Regions from separate parts of the Homo sapiens genome. Here region 1 is linked to region 2. Evidence: fine-mapped expression QTL. Tissue or cell type: nasal epithelium. Region 2 holds a variant in brackets; the other region holds the start of a gene. All regions are shown on one strand. Distances are between the middles of the regions.

Region 1 (8,098 bases), 27 kb before region 2:
GTTGGTCTCGATCTCCTGACCTCAAGTGATCCATCCACCTTGGCCCTGCAAAGTGCTGGGATTACAGGTGTGAGCCACTGCGCATGGCCTGATTAAAACTTTTTAATGTGGTAAAATATACACAAAACTTAACCACCTTCCCTGTATTACTTATTTGTTTTTTCTTTTTCTTTTTTTTTTTTTTTTGAGATGGAGTCTTGTTCTGTCGCCCAGGCTGAAGTGCAGTTGCACATCTCAGCTCACTGCAACTCAAGGATTTCTTGAGGCCAGGAGTTCTACACCAGCCTGGAAAAGATAGTGAGACCTCATCTCTGCAAAAATAAAAATAAAAATGACCAGCTACACGGGAGGCTGAGGCAGGAGAATGGCATGAACCTGGGAGGTGGAGCTTGCAGTAAGCTGACATTGCGCCACTGCACTCCAGCCTGGGCGACAGAGCGAGACTCTGTCTCAAAAAATAATAATAATAAAATAAAATAGAAATGAATTAGCTGGGCATGGTGGTATACACATGTAGTCCCCGCTGCTTGGGAGGCTGAGGTGGGAGGCTCTCTTGAGCGCAGGAGGTGGAGGCTGCGGGGAGCCATGATGGAGTCGCCGCACTCCAGTCTGGGGAACAGAGCCAGACATTGTCTCTTTGAAAAAGTTACTTTCTGAGGCCAAGGCGGGCAGATCACTTGAGCTCAGGAGTTCGAGACCAGCCTGGCCAACATGGTGAAACCCCATCTCTACTAAAAATACAAAAAACTAGCCAGGCATTGAGGCTCATGCCTGTAATCTCAGCTACTTGGGAGGCTGAGGCAGGAGAATTGCTTGGATCCAGGAGGTGGAAGTTGCAGTGAGCCAAGATCACTCCATTGCACTCCAGCCTGGGTGACACAGCGAGACTCTGTCTAAAAATAAAAATAAAAAGTCACTCAAAATTATCCTTTTTTGTATGGCTAACCCCCCCACATGCCATACAATTAGGTTCATTTGTTTCATTCTGTCTCCAAGTTTTAGATGCTTTTCTATTTTGATTTATTTTTGGTTTTCTAATTACACAGTTCTATAACTGAATGTAAGCACATTTAAAGAGATCTACTTTCTATTCCTGTGTCCTTCTGCCCCAGATAGTAACCTTTTTAATGTAAAAATATATATATATTCTTATTGCCACTGCTCCTTCTTACATAAATACTATACACACTTTTCTGCATCTTGATTTTTTTTTTTTTTTGAGACAGGATCTCACTTGTCACCCAAGCTGGAGTGCAGTGACACAGTCACAGCTCAGGGCAGCATCAATCTCCCAGGCTCAAGAGGTCCTCCCACCTCAGCCTCCCGAGTAGCTGGGGCTACAGGTGTGCACCGCCATGGCCGGCTAATTTTTTTTGTATTTTTTTAGAGTCAGAGTTTCACCATGTTGCCCAGGCTGGTCTCAAACTCCTGGACTCAAGCGATCCTCCCACCTTGCCCCCCAAAGTGCTGGGATTAGAAGCGTGAGCCGCTGCACCTGGCTGGATTTTTTTTTTCTTTTTTGAGATGGGGTTCACTATGTTGCCAGGGCTGGAGTACAGTGGTACAATCATAGCTCACTGTAGCCTCAAACTCCTGGGCTTGAGCAATCCATCCTGCAGCTTCCCAAGTAGCTGGGACTACAGGCTCAAGCCACCATGCCTGGCTCAATTTTTTTTACTTAACAATATGTTCTGGAGTCACTCCACAGCAGAACATAGAAATAAATGGTCCTTATACCTTCTTTACAGCTGACCTCCATCGTGTAGCTGTTCCACAGCTTCCTTAACCAACCAGTTCCATGGACACGGGGCTGTTCTCAGGCTGTCACTGTCCTTTCCTTCTTTCCTAGACAGTATATATATATATATAGAGAGAGAGAGAGAGAGAACGAGAGAGAGAGAGAGAGAGAGAGTTGGAGTCTCGCTCTGTTGCCCAGGCTGGAGTGCAGTAGTGTGATCTTGGCTCACTGCAAACTCTGCTTCCTAGGTTCAAGTGATTCTCCTGTGTCAGCCTCTCGAGTAGCTGGGATTACAGGCATGCGCCACCACGCCCAGCTAGTTTTTGTATTTTAGTAGACAGGGGTTTCACCATGTTGGCCAGGCGGGTCTCGAACTCCTGACCTCAGGTGATCCACCTGCCTTGGCCTCCCAAAGTGCTGGGATTATAGGCGTGAGCCACTGTGCCCGGCCCTTTCCTAGAAAGTATATTAACAGTTCATTGGGAAAGGTCCAGGGAGGCAAAGTTGATAAGGAAGAAGCCCTATCATTTCCGTGGAGTCGGGAAGAAGTATAATCTCTCTTATAAAAGCGAACCTGGGCTGGTAATGGTGGCTTGGTTCTATTCCTCAGATTCTGAGGAGGAAAGCGATCTGGCACTGCGGAAGGTGGGTGAGTGCAGAGGTGCTGTGGTGTCACCCAGCTACTTTCCACAGCCATTCTCACGGGTGCTGGGCATTCTGCAAGGTGTCTTGCCTCTGATGGATCAGGTTATGGGCCAGGATAAAACCAAAGGACCTCCCAGGCCTCACTGTGGCATCAGGAGCCGGCCACCCTGCAAGCCCTACACATGGCGGGCTGAAAGACTGCCAGGGTAGGGGACGCGTCCAATTCACTCGTGAGCCCAGTTCTTGGCATAGAGTGGCCCGGTGAGAGACCACTCCCTTTCCTCACACTCCCATGTCTCCATTGCAAACGGCCCCCACGGACCAGCGGTGCGAGAAGAGGCTCCGGTGTAACAGGATGCACAGTGAGATGGGCTGGGCAGCGGGGGATGGGGACTGTGGGAAAGGCAATGGGGAACGTCGGAACCGGCTTGGCATGTTGGGCCCATCTTCCGTTTTGTTTTTTGTTTGTTTGTTTGTCTTGAGACAGAGTCTCGCTCTGTCGTTCAGGCTGGAGTGCAGTGGCGCAATCTTGGCTCGCTGCAACCTCCACCTCCCGGGTTCAAACGATTCTCCTGCCTCAGCCTCTGGGGTAGCTGGGACTGCAGGTGTGCGCCACCACACCCGGCTAATTTTTGTATTTTTAGTAGAGACAGGGTTTCACCATGTTGACCAGGATAGTCTCGAACTCCTGACCTCAAGTGATCTGCCCAACTCAGCCTCCCAAAGTGCTGGGATTACAGGCATGAGCCACTGTGCCCAACCGGGTTTTTGCTGTTTTTAATTTTGAAACAGGGTCTTGATTTCGCTCAGGCCAGAGTGTGATGGCACCATCATAGCTCACTGACTTTGCTATTTACTTTTACAATTTTTCAGTTGGAGCCTTTGCTGGAACATAACATTCAGAAGTCTTTTTTTTTTTTTTTTTTTTTTTGAGCCGGAGTCTCACTCTGTCATCCAGGCTGGAGTGCAGTGGTACGATCTTGGCTCACTGCAACCTCCTCCTCCTGGATTCAAGCGATTCTCCTGCCTCAGCCTCCTGAGTAGCTGGGATTACAGGCAGCTGCCACCATGCCCTGCTAATTTTTGTATATTTAGAAGAGACGGGGTTTCACCATGTTGGCGAAGCTGGTCTCGAACTCCTGACCTCAAGTGATCCGTCCACCTCGGCCTCCTAAATTGTTGGGATGACAGGTGTGAGCCACCGCGCCCAGCCCGATCTTCCATTTGCAAGAGAAGAGGAAAATCCCCATTTTCACGGGAAACCTCCTAGTTTTTTAGGTTGACAAACGACTCCAAACCATCATGCACCCGCCCCGGTCCTCTGGGCCAACGCGCCGGTGCTGAGCTCCTCCAGGCCCCCCAAGTCTGTCTGTCACCTCCAAGCCTTGGCCCTGGGCCAGGCCTGGCTGTCTGGGACCCCGGAGACGTCCCCGCCCCGCGGCCTGTGGCCTGGCCCTTCAGCCGCGCCTCGGGGCCCGCGACCTCCTTGCCCCGGCCCCGGCCCGCGCGGTCGGTGGTGGGTCGGACCAAACCACCCGCTCCAGCCGGGGAGCAGAACGGGCGAGGCTCCCCCTCCGGCCACGATGGAGTCTTCCGTTGCCATGGAGCTGCCCGCCCCAAACCACGCCGCCGGCGCCGCGGAGGGCAATCGCCAAGGACCGCCGCCTGCCTGAGCAGCCCGGGGTGTCTGTGCCTCCGGAGCCCGAGAACCTGGGACCCAGGCCAGCCAGAGGTGGGTGTGGGGGCGGATGCGTTTGACCCTGGGGCTGAGCTGGAAGGGTTTGACCCCCGCCCCCCAGGCAGAACTCCGTCCCATATGAAACGCCTTTCCCGGAAAGCTGTGCCAGAAAAATGACTTTGTTAATAGTTCTAGTCCCTGGTTCGTTTCAGGGAACCCCGGCGCTGGCACAGCCTCTGTTGAGGGACCCGCCCCTGACTTTGCAGCAGATGTTATAATAAAGTATTATTATAACACATTTACAAAAACATTAAACAAAAATCAAGGGCCAGCCTGTCTGGTGAACAGTTAAGACTCGTGAGTGTCTGCCTAGCTAAAAAGGAGAGCATGGTCCATAGCCCCAAAGTCATTTAGTTTTAGTATGTATAACCTAGTTTTGGAAGCTGATTTGCCTCTAGTATTTTGTTTTTCTTAAAGGAATACTCCTTTTATCTGCATAAGCCAGGTACTGAGGTAGTAAGCAGGCCTGCTGTAGGGCCCACAGTTGAAAAGAAATGGACTGATATTCTCTGCATAACGATGGTGCATAAATGCGCATGTGCGACTTAGAGATTGGTTATAAATCGAACATCAGTAGCCACTACCCAAGTTAAGAAATAGAACCTCATCAGCACCCCAAAGTCTCTCCCCCATGCCACTCACAGACCCGCTCTTCTTGACCATGGCTGACTTTTTCTTTAGTTTTACTACCTATGCATGCGTCCCTAAACAATATAGTTAACTTTCACTTATTTTAAACTTTATATAAACTTTATATTTATATAAAATTTTAAAGATGATATATAAATTTCTTTAGTTTTACTACCTATGCATGTGTCCCTAAACAATATAGTTAACTTTCACTTATTTTAAACTTTATATAAACTTTATATAAAATTTTAAAGAATATATGTGGTGTTATATAAACAATATATAATATAAATATATAGACTATATATAATGCCACATATAGTTTTATGTAAGTTTAATAATATATATTAAACTTCATATAATACTACATATATTCTTTAAATTTTTGTTTTTTTGAGACAGAGTCTCACTGTGTTGCCCAGGTTGGAATGCAGCAGGGCGATCTCGGCTCACTGCAACCTCCACCTCCTGGGTTCAAGCGATTCTCCTGCCTCAGCCTCCCAAGTAGCTGGGATTATAGCATGCCTGGCTAATTTTTGTATTTTTAGTATAGACGGGGTTTCCGCGTGTTGGCCAGGATGGTCTTGAACTCCTGATCTCAAATGATCCACCCACCTCCGCCTCCCAAAGTGCTGGAATTACAGGCGGTGAGCCACCACACCCAGCCAACTTTCATTTATTTTAAATTTTATATAAATTTATTTATATAAAATTTTAAAGAATATGTGTGGTATTATATAAGGTTTATATAAGTTTAATAATATATATAAACTTTATGTAATACCACATACATTCTTTAACATTTTTTGAAACAATCCCAAACTTGTATAAAAGTTGCAAGCTCAGCACAAAAAAACTTCTCGTGAAGGATTTGAGAGTAAGTTGCCTTCATGATGCTCTGTCGCCCCCCACCCTTGTAGAGTGTATTTTCCACAAACGAGGACATTCTCCAACACAGCCACACATGGCCCGAGTCAGGAGAGGACACAGGCCTGTTGCCGTGTTTACCCCTCAGCCTGTCAAACACGCTTTGCCAGTTGATTGCATCAGGGCCCCAGCGTGGAAGGATCCAGCCTAGAGTCACTTTGCACTGAATTCTCACATACCTCTTTATTCCCCTTCAGTCCAGAACATTCCTTGGCCTTGCTTTGGCTGTCATGACCCTGACACCTCTGAAGGTCATGGGCCAATTACTTTGGAGAAAGTCCCTCCATTTGGTTTCGTCTGCTGTGTCCTCGTGATTAGATTCCCACTGCACGTCTCGGACAGGAAAGTCGCAGAGGTGACACCGTGGCCTGTTCATTCCATCCAGTCAGTGGCTCACAGTGGTCACGTTGTCACGTTACTGATGATGTTCACTTTGAGCTCTTGATTAAGGTGGTATCTGCCAACATCTCCACTGGGAAGTTCTTTTTTCCTTCGTAATTAACAAGCATTTTGGCCGGGTGCAGTGGCTCACGCCTGTAATCCCAGCACTTTGGGAGGCTGAGGAGGGCGGATCACGAGGTCAGTAGATCGAGACCATCCTGGCTAACACGGTGAAACCGTCTCTACTAAAAATACAAAAATTAGCCAGGTGTGGTGGCGGTTGCCTGTAGTCCCAGCTACTCGGGAGGCTGAGGCAGGAGAATGGCGTGAACCCAGGAGGCGGAGTTTGCAGTGAGCCGACCCTGCGCCACTGCACTCCAGCCTGGGCGACAGAGCGAGACTCCGTCTCAAAAAAAAAAAAACAAAATGAAAAACAAAACAAAACAAAAACACAAGCATTTTGTAGGAGGTATTTGGAAGCTATGCAAATATGTCATCACTCCCAGGCTTGGCCTGGGAGGCTCTCATGGTGGACACCTTCTTCTCCTGCCTGGGCTCTGATACCCTCTGCTGGACCACACCTGGGGCCGCCCTCTTTCTTCTCAGGCTCTGACATCCAGCTCTGAGCCTCAGCCACGCACACCGGCACCCTCCTCACCCAGCCAGGCACCTGCAAACAGCTCTGAGCCTCAGCCACATACCCTCACCCTCCTCACCCAGCCAGGCTCCGACAGCCCAGCCTGGGCCACTGTGGATCCTGCTCCACCTGCCCTACCCAGGGAACCTACTGTGACAGTGAAGGGAAGGGGGAGAGGAAGAGCATCAGGCGGGCCTCTGTCTTTTTCTCCTCGGGGTTGTGCGAGAGATTCATCCACACAGTGGCACCGTGGCCATCGGGGCTGTCTCTAAGCCTCAGGACCTGAGAATATGACCTTATTTGGACTTACAGTGATGCCTGTAAGTAGCTAAGAGGAGGACATACTAGAATAGGGTGAGTGCCTCATCTGGTATGACCGGTGTCCTTATAAAAAGGAGAAATTTGGACATACAAATGCACACAGAGAGAATGTCCTATGAAGATTGGAATTTTGCTGCCACAAGCCACAGAACTAGCAGAAGCTAAAAGAGAGGCCTGAAACAGGCCCTTCCCTCGTGCCTTCAGAGGAAGCATGGCCCTGCCATCAACTCGGTTTTAGACGATGGCTTCCAGAACCGTGAGACAACTCTGTTGTTGAAGCCACCTAGGTTGTGGTACTTTGTTATGGCGACCCCGGGAAGCTAACACAACAGGTGGGATTTTCTGTAGGGTGTGCTCCTGGGAGAGGAATCGCAGAGCCAGAGGGTGCCATAGGCAGGATGATCTCCCCCTTCCCCAAAAAACCCATGTCCTGGTCCTCCGAACCCATGCGCGTGTTAGGGGACGTGGCACGTCCTTAACTGTGAAGTGCCTGTTGACGTCTTTTGCCCATTTTGCTGTGGGGCTGTCTGTCTTTATCCATTCATGGATATTCCTTACATGGTCTTGACAGTAAAATTCTGGGTTATGTGCTGTGATTGTCTTCTACTTTGTAGGTTTTCTTTTTTCTTTTTTTTGAGATGGAGTCTCGCTCTGTCGCCCAGGCTGGAGTGCAGTGGCACGATCTCAGCTCACTGCAACCTCCACCTCACCAGTTCAAGCAACTCTCCTGCTTCAACCTCCTGAGGAGCTGGGACTCCAGGCGCCTGCACCACACCTGGCTAATTTTTTGTATTTTTAGTAGAGACGGGGTTTCACCGTGTTAGCCAGGATGGTCTTGATCTCCTGACCTCATGATCCGCCCGCCTCAGCCTCCCAAAGTGCTGGGATTACAGGCGTGAGCCACCGCGCCCGGCCTGTAGGTTTTCTTTAACTTTCCCTAGGATGTCATCTGAACAAAAGATTTGGTTTTGTTTATTTGTTTGAGACAGAGTCTTGCTCTGTCGCCTAAGCTGTAGTGCAGTGGCACAATCTTGGCTCACTGCAACCTCCTCCTCCCAGGTTCAAAGGAGTCTCTTGCCTC
Region 2 (8,099 bases):
CCAATGTGGTGACTCCTTTTGTCGTCTCTGGGCACTGCGGGCACAGGGGCACTGGACGGCTGGGTGCAGCTTCAGCTTCCACTCAGTGGGATTGTTGCAGGGTCTCTGCAAGGCCTCCTCCCTCTGGAACGGGGGCTTCCAGCGGTAGAGCCCAACGGAGAGAGCACAGAAACGAAATAGCACGGGTGTGTGCGAGGGGCAGCTTGGAGAGCGTGGTCCCCGCTTCCAGCGTCGGTCCCGGGAGGCCTCCGTTGTGGCTCTGGGACAGGTGGCGGCCACGAGGCTGGCCGCTGCTTCGGGACCCAAACCGCGTTCTGGAAACAGCACCTGAACCTTCCCCAGCACGTGTCCCTGCTGCCACACCATGCGCGTCATCCGCAGCCACAGAACAGGCCGCCCCAGCCCTTAGCCGCCTAAGGCAGCAGGCGTGATGGTCTCGGTTTCTGAGGGTCTCGGTTTCTGAGGGTCGTGGTCTGGGCAGGGGGTTGGGCTTGGGGTGTTCAGGCCAGCCCGAGAGAGACCCCGTGGAGGGGCTTCAGGCATGAACAGCCGAGGGTCCTTGGAATCATCTTGGAGACGGGATGCTGCATGTGTCTCACCCGCAGCTCTCCCAGGACCAGCATCTCTGCACGCAAGGGGCCATGGGCTGGCAGAAGCGTCTGTGGACTCACGGGCATTTCCTGGCCAGCAGGTCCCAGGAACCCCCAAAGAAGGCCCTAGAGACGACCCTGCCCGCTCACACCACCTCCCGGTCCTCAGCGCCTGCGCAGGTCCCATCCCTGTGCCCGGGGGCTGCTGTGAGGCGCCCACTGCGATCTGTGCCGGTGGCTTAGATACAGTCTCTCGTTCACCCGTCCTCCCCACACGGTAAGAGGGCGCCCACTGCGATCTGTGCCGGTGGCTTAGATACAGTCTCTCGTTCACCCGTCCTCCCCACGCGGTAAGAGGGCGCCCACTGCGATCTGTGCCGGTGGCTTAGATACAGTCTCTCGTTCACCCGTCCTCCCCACGCGGTAAGAGGGCGCCCACTGCGATCTGTGCCGGTGGCTTAGATACAGTCTCTCGTTCACCCGTCCTCCCCACGCGGTAAGAGGGCGCCCACTGCGATCTGTGCCGGTGGCTTAGATACAGTCTCTCGTTCACCCGTCCTCCCCACGCGGTAAGAGGGCGCCCACTGCGATCTGTGCCGGTGGCTTAGATACACTCTCGTTCACCCGTCCTCCCCACGCGGTAAGAGGGTGCCCACTGCGTGCCAGACGCCGTCCGAAGCCTTTGGGCCTCTCCCATGAATGAAGCAGCAGAGCCCTGCCTGGTGGAGGCTGCTTCGGTGGTGGGAGGCAGGCCGTGAGCGATCACACGCGTGTTCTGCGCAGCCTCGTCACGTGACACCTTCCCATGCCCAGCTCAGCACGACACGTGTGTTCTGCGCAGCTTCGTCATGTGACGCCTTCCCACACCCAGGTCAGTACCACACGCGTGTTCTGCGCAGCTTCGTCATGTGACGCCTTCCCACACCCAGGTCAGTACCACACGCGTGTTCTGCACAGCCTCGTCACGTGACGCCTTCCCACACCCAGCTCAGCATGACATGCGTGTTCTGCGCAGCCTCGTCACGCGACACCTTCCCACGCCCAGCTCAGCACGACACACGTGTTCTGCGCAGCCTCGTCACGTGATGCCTTCCCACACCCAGCTCAGTACCACACGCATGTTCTGCGCAGCCTCGTCACGTGACACCTTCCCACGCCCAGCTCAGTACCACACGCGTGTTCTGCGCAGCTTCGTCACGTGACGCCTTCCCACGCCCAGCTCAGTACCACACGCGTGTTCTGTGCAGCTTCATCACGTGACGCCTTCCCACGCCCAGCTCAGTACCACACGCGTGTTCTGCACAGCCTTGTCACGTGACGCCTTCCCACGCCCAGCTCAGTACCACACGCATGTTCTGTGCAGCCTTGTCACATGATGCCTTCCCACGCCCAGCTCAGCACGACACACGTGTTCTGTGCAGCCTCGTCACATGACGCCTTCCCACGCCCAGCTCAGCACGACACACGTGTTCTGTGCAGCCTCGTCACATGACGCCTTCCCACGCCCAGCTCAGCACGACACACGTGTTCTGTGCAGCCTTGTCACATGATGCCTTCCCACGCCCAGCTCAGTACCACACACATGTTCTGTGCAGCCTTGTCACGTGACACCTTCCCACGCCCAGCTCAGTACCACACGCATGTTCTGTGCAGCCTCGTCACATGACGCCTTCCCACGCCCAGCTCAGCACGACACACGTGTTCTGTGCAGCCTCGTCACGTGACGCCTTCCCACGCCCAGCTCAGCACGACACACGTGTTCTGTGCAGCCTCGTCACATGATGCCTTCCCACGCCCAGCTCAGCACGAAGAAGAGGCTTTGTGTGCACCCCGCTTGGCCACATGGGACCCACGGCAGGGCGCTGGTGCTGTGTCCCGGCCTGCTCTGAGGCTTCCCTGACTGCACCCGTATCCCATCGCTGCAGTGACAAATCCACAAACCTAACAGCTCAGCAGGACGCGGATTTATGAGCTTGCAGTTCTAGAGGTCATTGGCCCAACACGGGTCCCACTGGGCTAAAGTCAAGGTGTGGGCAGGGCTGGTTCCCCACGGAAGCCTCCGAGGAGAATCCATGTCCTCGCCTTTTCCAGCTCCAAAGCTGCCTGCGTTCCTCCTCCATCTTCAAAACCAGCCAGGTCCCATCTGTCCAGCCTCCAACCTTCATCATCACCTCTGCGACTGACCACACTGGCTCTTCAGATAAACTGGACTTGAGTGGGGTCCCCATCTACTTCAGCCCTAGGGACCCCAAAATCAATTAACCACCGCCCCAAACCCCTTCCACCCATCCCCGCTGAGACACGCTGCCCTGCTGCCCACCGAGGAACCAGCCCGGCTCCCTCCCAGGCCTAGCAGCACCCCAGGGCTCCACCACCCCTCCCAGGTCCAGCATCGCCCCAAGGCAACAGGGAGCCCCTCAAAGGCAACATCCCTGCCAGGCCCCCGCGCAGTCCGGAGTGCCCCTCGGTGCTTTCAAAGGGCACAGGACTCTCCTCACTGGAGCCATAATGAAGAACATGTCTTCTATATGTGGTCACACTCACTGTCACACTCACCAACAGCTGGATGCAGTGGCTCACGCCTGTAATCCCAACACTTTGGGAGGCCAAGGTGGGCAGATCGCTTGAGCCCCGGAGTTTGAGATCAGCCTGGGAACATGGTGAAACCCCATCTGTACAAAAAATACCAAACTTAGCTGGGTGTGGTGGCGTGCACCTGTAATCCCAGCTACTCAAGATTACAGGCTGAGGTGGGAGGATTGATTAAGCAAGCCCAGGAGGTCAAGGATGCAGTGAGCTGAGACTGCGCCACTGCACTCCAGCCTGGGCCACAGAGCGAGACACCATCTCAACAACAGCAACAACAAACTTTCCAACGGGTTGTCTCTCCAAACATTTGGATTCCTTCTGCATGACTTTCTGGCATCTAGCTTTCTGCAGTGTAGGTCTCTCTTGGGTCCAGGTTTCCTCGATCAGCTGAGTTTGTGATGGGAGCCGCCTGCAGTGGGTGGGTGAGCTGGTGGCATGTCCACATCAGATGCCCAGGCCAGCCTCGGACAGGCTCTTCCCTCTGCGGTCTGGCAGGGTTGGAATTCATTCCCACACACCTTCCCCCACGTCCTGCTGTGTAGATTGGCTACATTCTTCTCCTCTGGGATCCTTCTCCTCTCAGTTCAGTTCAGACTTTGTTCTTGCCCCTGGGAGCATCTGGGCCAGAGAGGATGGCAAGGGGGTCATGAGGAGCTCTGGCAGCCCCTCAGGGAGGTGTTACGGGGCCCCCAGGCAGCAGAGCCTGCCTTCGAGGGAGGGGAAGGCTGCTTCCCTGTGGACGGATATGCAGAGGGGCTTGGCGGTTTGGGGCACTCGCTCAGATGTGTGCAGATACCCTCAAATGTCCTCCCTCCCATTCTCAAAATCCCAATCTTTCCCAATCAGCCTCTGCTGTGGTCTGAAGGCCAGTGCCCCTGAAATTGGTCTGCTGGAACTCAACGCTATTGTTCGTCAGTCTTTGTGTCACTATAAAGAAATGCCTGACACTGGGTCATATAAAGAAAAGAGGTGGCTGGGCGAGGTGGCTCACATCTGTAATCCCAGCACCTTGGGAAGCCAAGGTGGGTGGATCATGAGGTCAGGAGATTGAGACCATCCTGGCTAACACGGTGAAACCCCGTCTCTACTAAAAAAAATACAAAAAATTAGCCGGGCATGGTGGCAGGCACCTGTAGTCCCAGCTACTCAGGAAGCTGAGGCAGGAGAATGGCGTGAACTCGGGAGGCGGAGCTTGCAGTGAGCTGAGACCGCACCACTGTACTCCAGCCTGGGCAACAGAGCGAGACTGTCTCAAAAAAAAAAGAAAAGAGGTTTGGGCCAGACACAGTGACTCACACCTGTAATCCCAGCACTTTGGGAGGCCAAGGTGGGCAGATCACCTGAGGTCAGGAGTTTGAGACCAGCCCGGCCAACATGGTGAAACCCCGTCTCTACTAAAAATACAAAAACTAGCTGGGCGTGGTGGTGCATGCCTGTAATCCCAGCTATTCAAGAGGCTGAGGCGGGAGAATTGCTTGAACCCGGGAGGTGGAGTTTGCAGTGAGCTGAAATCATGCCGCTGCACTCCAGACTGGCGGAGAGAGCAAGACTC[A/G]TTTTAAAAGAAATAAAAATAAGAAGAAAAGAGGTTTGATTGGTCAGGGTTCTGCAGGCTGTACAGGGAACGTGATGGCATCTGCTTCTCGGGGCGCCTCGGGAAGCCTCTGGAAGCCTCCAATCACAGTGGAAGGGGAAGGAGCCGTGTCTCCCATGGTGAGAGGGGAAGCAAGAGGGTGGAGGTGCCACACATTTTCAAAGATCCAGATCTTCCGTGAACTCACTCGTCACCAAGGAGACGGCCCACCCGTTCATGAGGGAGCCGCCCCACGACCCCAACACCTCCCACCAGGCCCACCTCCAACACTGGGGGCTCCGGTTCAACACGAGACCTGCGGGGGACACGCGTCCAAACCAAATCCGCCCTGGAGGTGACGGCAGGAAGAGGTGGGGTCTCTGGGAGATTCGGCCATGGGGGCCCTGCCCTCGTGGGGGCGATTAGTGCCTCGTAAAAGGGCTTGAGGGAGCCTTTCTGTCCCTCTGCCACGTGAGGACACAGACAGGCACTGCCTTTGAGGAACAGGCTTTCATAGGCCATCGAAGCTGCTGGCACCTTGACCTTGGACTTCCCGGCCTCCAGAACTGAGGAATGAAATTCTGTTGTTTGCGAAGACCCGGTCGTGGGTGTTTTCCTACAGCAGCAGGAATGGGCGACGACAGCATCTGGGACAGCGTCTTGCCTCTTTACTAAGAGACCCTGCAGGCTGTTAGCTCCCACGGCCACTGGAGCACTGATCACCGGGCAGGGGAAGTGACAGCCAGCAGAACAATGACTGAGCGTTTTCCAGAATTGATGGGAGCATGAATCCTCAGATTAAAGAATTTCATGAGTCACGCGAGGGAGGAATAGAAATAACCCGCCCGTGGAAGCTCCGCGGAGTCCCCCAGACTTGGGGAGCAATGAACGTGCTGCATGACAGGACACCAGCCAGAGATCCGAAGTGACCCATGCTCCCTGGAAAGGAGCCCTCTGTTTAAAATTACCCCAACAAAGAACATGGTATGCCCAGTTTCTAAAATGCAGTGACACAACCTCGATGCCAAAACCAAGTGGGCGTACGAGAGAGGGAAAGTAGAACCCGATCTCAGGAGGCAAATCAGAAAACCCCAAATCAAACATTCAACATTGAAATCCAGCCACGTGTGAGACACGCAGACACACCTCCCTTGCCAAGTTGGAGTTTATATCCTAGGAGCCCCGAAAAAGGCTCAACGTTAGAAATCCTTGACATTAACACGTTAAAAGAGAAAACCATTGAGTATCTCAATTCAACATATGTTCATGATTTTTTCAAAAAGATGTAAAGCAGACTTTATTCACGGAGGGCCAAGGCGGTGGGACCCCTGCCCCGGGTGTTGCAGTGGGGAGAGAGACTGGACTCGGCTCCACAGGAAAAGCTTTTAACGAAAGACGAAGTGGAAATGAACATGATCGCGGGTGTCTAGGACAGAGCTGTGGCACACGTCACGTGGAATGTCAGCAATGCAGTGAGGATGCCGGCTCAACGCCTGCGTCTGACCTTGTCCAGGGTTCTGATCCTCGCGTGGCCAGCCCCGGCCTGAGCCGCATCTCTGGGTGGAACCGTTCGCAGTCTCCAGGAGCGGCTCCTTGCATCCCTCCACCAGGTGTCTCTTTCCAGGCCGCCTCTCCAGCGGCTCTCACCTGGCCGCTGTTAGAAGGACACTGTCCACATCCTCAGAAGGAACTTTCCCAGCCTGAGCCTCCACAGCACACGCACTCCTCCAACTAAAGATTCACCGGAAATTTCCCTGAGTTGTGCCAAGAACCAAGGGGCACTGTGTCATCTGGGGCCACCACAGACGCCACACTCACAGTCGAGGACAAATTCGCCCAAGACCAGGGGTCAGGCAGGTCCCCTGTCATCCAGGACATGTGGCCCCGGGCAGGGCTGGCTGACTCCACGCTCCATAGCCCCCACCCCAGGCACATTTGAAGACTGAGGGGTGGTCTTGGGTGCCGGTCAATTTGCACCAGGGATCCTCCAGCCCAGCCAAAGAGTCACGGCTGTCCCTTCCTGAAGGCCTTCCTCAGGCTGGGCAGGGCCTGCCCCAGGCCCACCGCAGCCAACGGACACAGCCTCAGGCCGGCAGGTGGCACGCGGGAGTGCAGGCCAGGCTCTAGCCGGGCTGGATTGAACCCATAGTGATTTTCCTGAGGTTGGAGGCAGGCAGGGCGGGCCTCAGTGTCTGGGTGACTCAGAGCGGAGATGGCCCCTAGAGGAGGGAGCTAACCCATCTGGGGTGTTCAACATCTGCCTGGAGGATTTGTCAGAACTCAATGCCGAAACCCCCACCCCAGGATGACTGTGGGGCCCGTCTCCAGCTGCTTTGCCTCTTGTTTGAAGGAACACCATGTGGCACATCGAGATCCAGGAGGGGCGACTCGAGGCCTTCCGGACAGCTGACCGTGAGGAGGTGGAGGCCACGGGGCGGCGGCTCCAGGTGCGCGCAGCCGAGCAGCTCTGCAGAGAGCAGGAGGCCCTGGGGAAGGTGGAGCGGAACCGACTGCTGAGGATCAGGTAGGCGACACCCAGGCCCACCTCCATCCCTTCCCAGCAGCTTCTGCCAGCCCCTCCGCCCTCTCCCCCAGGGGTCTCCAGATTCAGCCTCGCCCTCCACATCTGTCCAGATCCACCTCCACCCCTCCCTGCCTCCTCCCAGCTTGCTCCTCCACCGGGCCCTTGAGTCCTTCCCAAGTGTCAGGCACTCCCCTGCACCTGCCCAGAGCCCCAGCCCTCCCAAGATGCCGCAGCCACCATACAGCCGCTAAAGCTGGCTACTAAAGCCACGCTCCAGCAAGACTGCCCCTCCCCTTTCCCTCCGGCAGCCCCTTCCTCTTCCCAGCCAGGCCATTCTCTGGGCTCCATCCCCACCTCTGGCTGCTCCTTTGCACCCCTCCCACGGCCCCCACCTGCGTGGCTGTGGAGCACTCAGGCCCATTCCCCACACGTCTTCTGTCATGAGTCTCCTGCTCAGCCAGGGCCCGGCCACCTACTAGGCCAGTCCCCAAGTGCTCCACAGGCCATCAGGCCAGCTGTCCCAACCTGCCGTGAGCCTCTCTCCTCGGGACCCCCTTCTGGCCTCCATCCCCTCCCCCATCTCATTCCTTCCCTTCAGCTGCCCAGGCCACAAACCCCTGTGGAATCCAGGCCCTGGCTGCAGACACAAGGTCCCCAGCCCCTGCCTCCTCCCTCCCCACAGCACTGCTGTGCCTGCACCGTCCTCTTCCCAGACCCCTGCCCAGCTGGGATCAAACCTTGCCTTTGGTGGCTCCCTGGCACTGGAGCCCCAGTAGCGTGGAGAGTTTGACATCTGTGTGGCCCACGGCATCAGCTCTCCAGGGAC

The links. PIP is the estimated chance that this variant, and not a neighbour inherited with it, causes the effect.
Region 1: it holds the start of CFAP74, and the variant in region 2 is fine-mapped to the expression of CFAP74 in nasal epithelium (TOPMed, PIP above 0.99).

Annotation. Positions count from the first base shown.
Region 1 is chr1:1,999,718-2,007,815 of GRCh38, reverse strand. It overlaps CFAP74 (cilia and flagella associated protein 74), which reads left to right and starts at 4,030. Exons shown (of 39, transcript NM_001304360.2): 1 at 4,030-4,115. RefSeq lists a silencer at 3,872-4,166.
Region 2 is chr1:1,973,199-1,981,297 of GRCh38, reverse strand. CFAP74 (cilia and flagella associated protein 74) reads left to right here. Exons shown (of 39, transcript NM_001304360.2): 7 at 7,100-7,273. Among named protein-coding and RNA genes, the nearest start is that of CFAP74, 27 kb to the left of the region's middle. RefSeq lists enhancers at 759-1,716, 1,717-2,674, 7,904-8,099 and a silencer at 7,479-7,646. The variant A/G (reference allele first, on the strand shown) is at 4,732.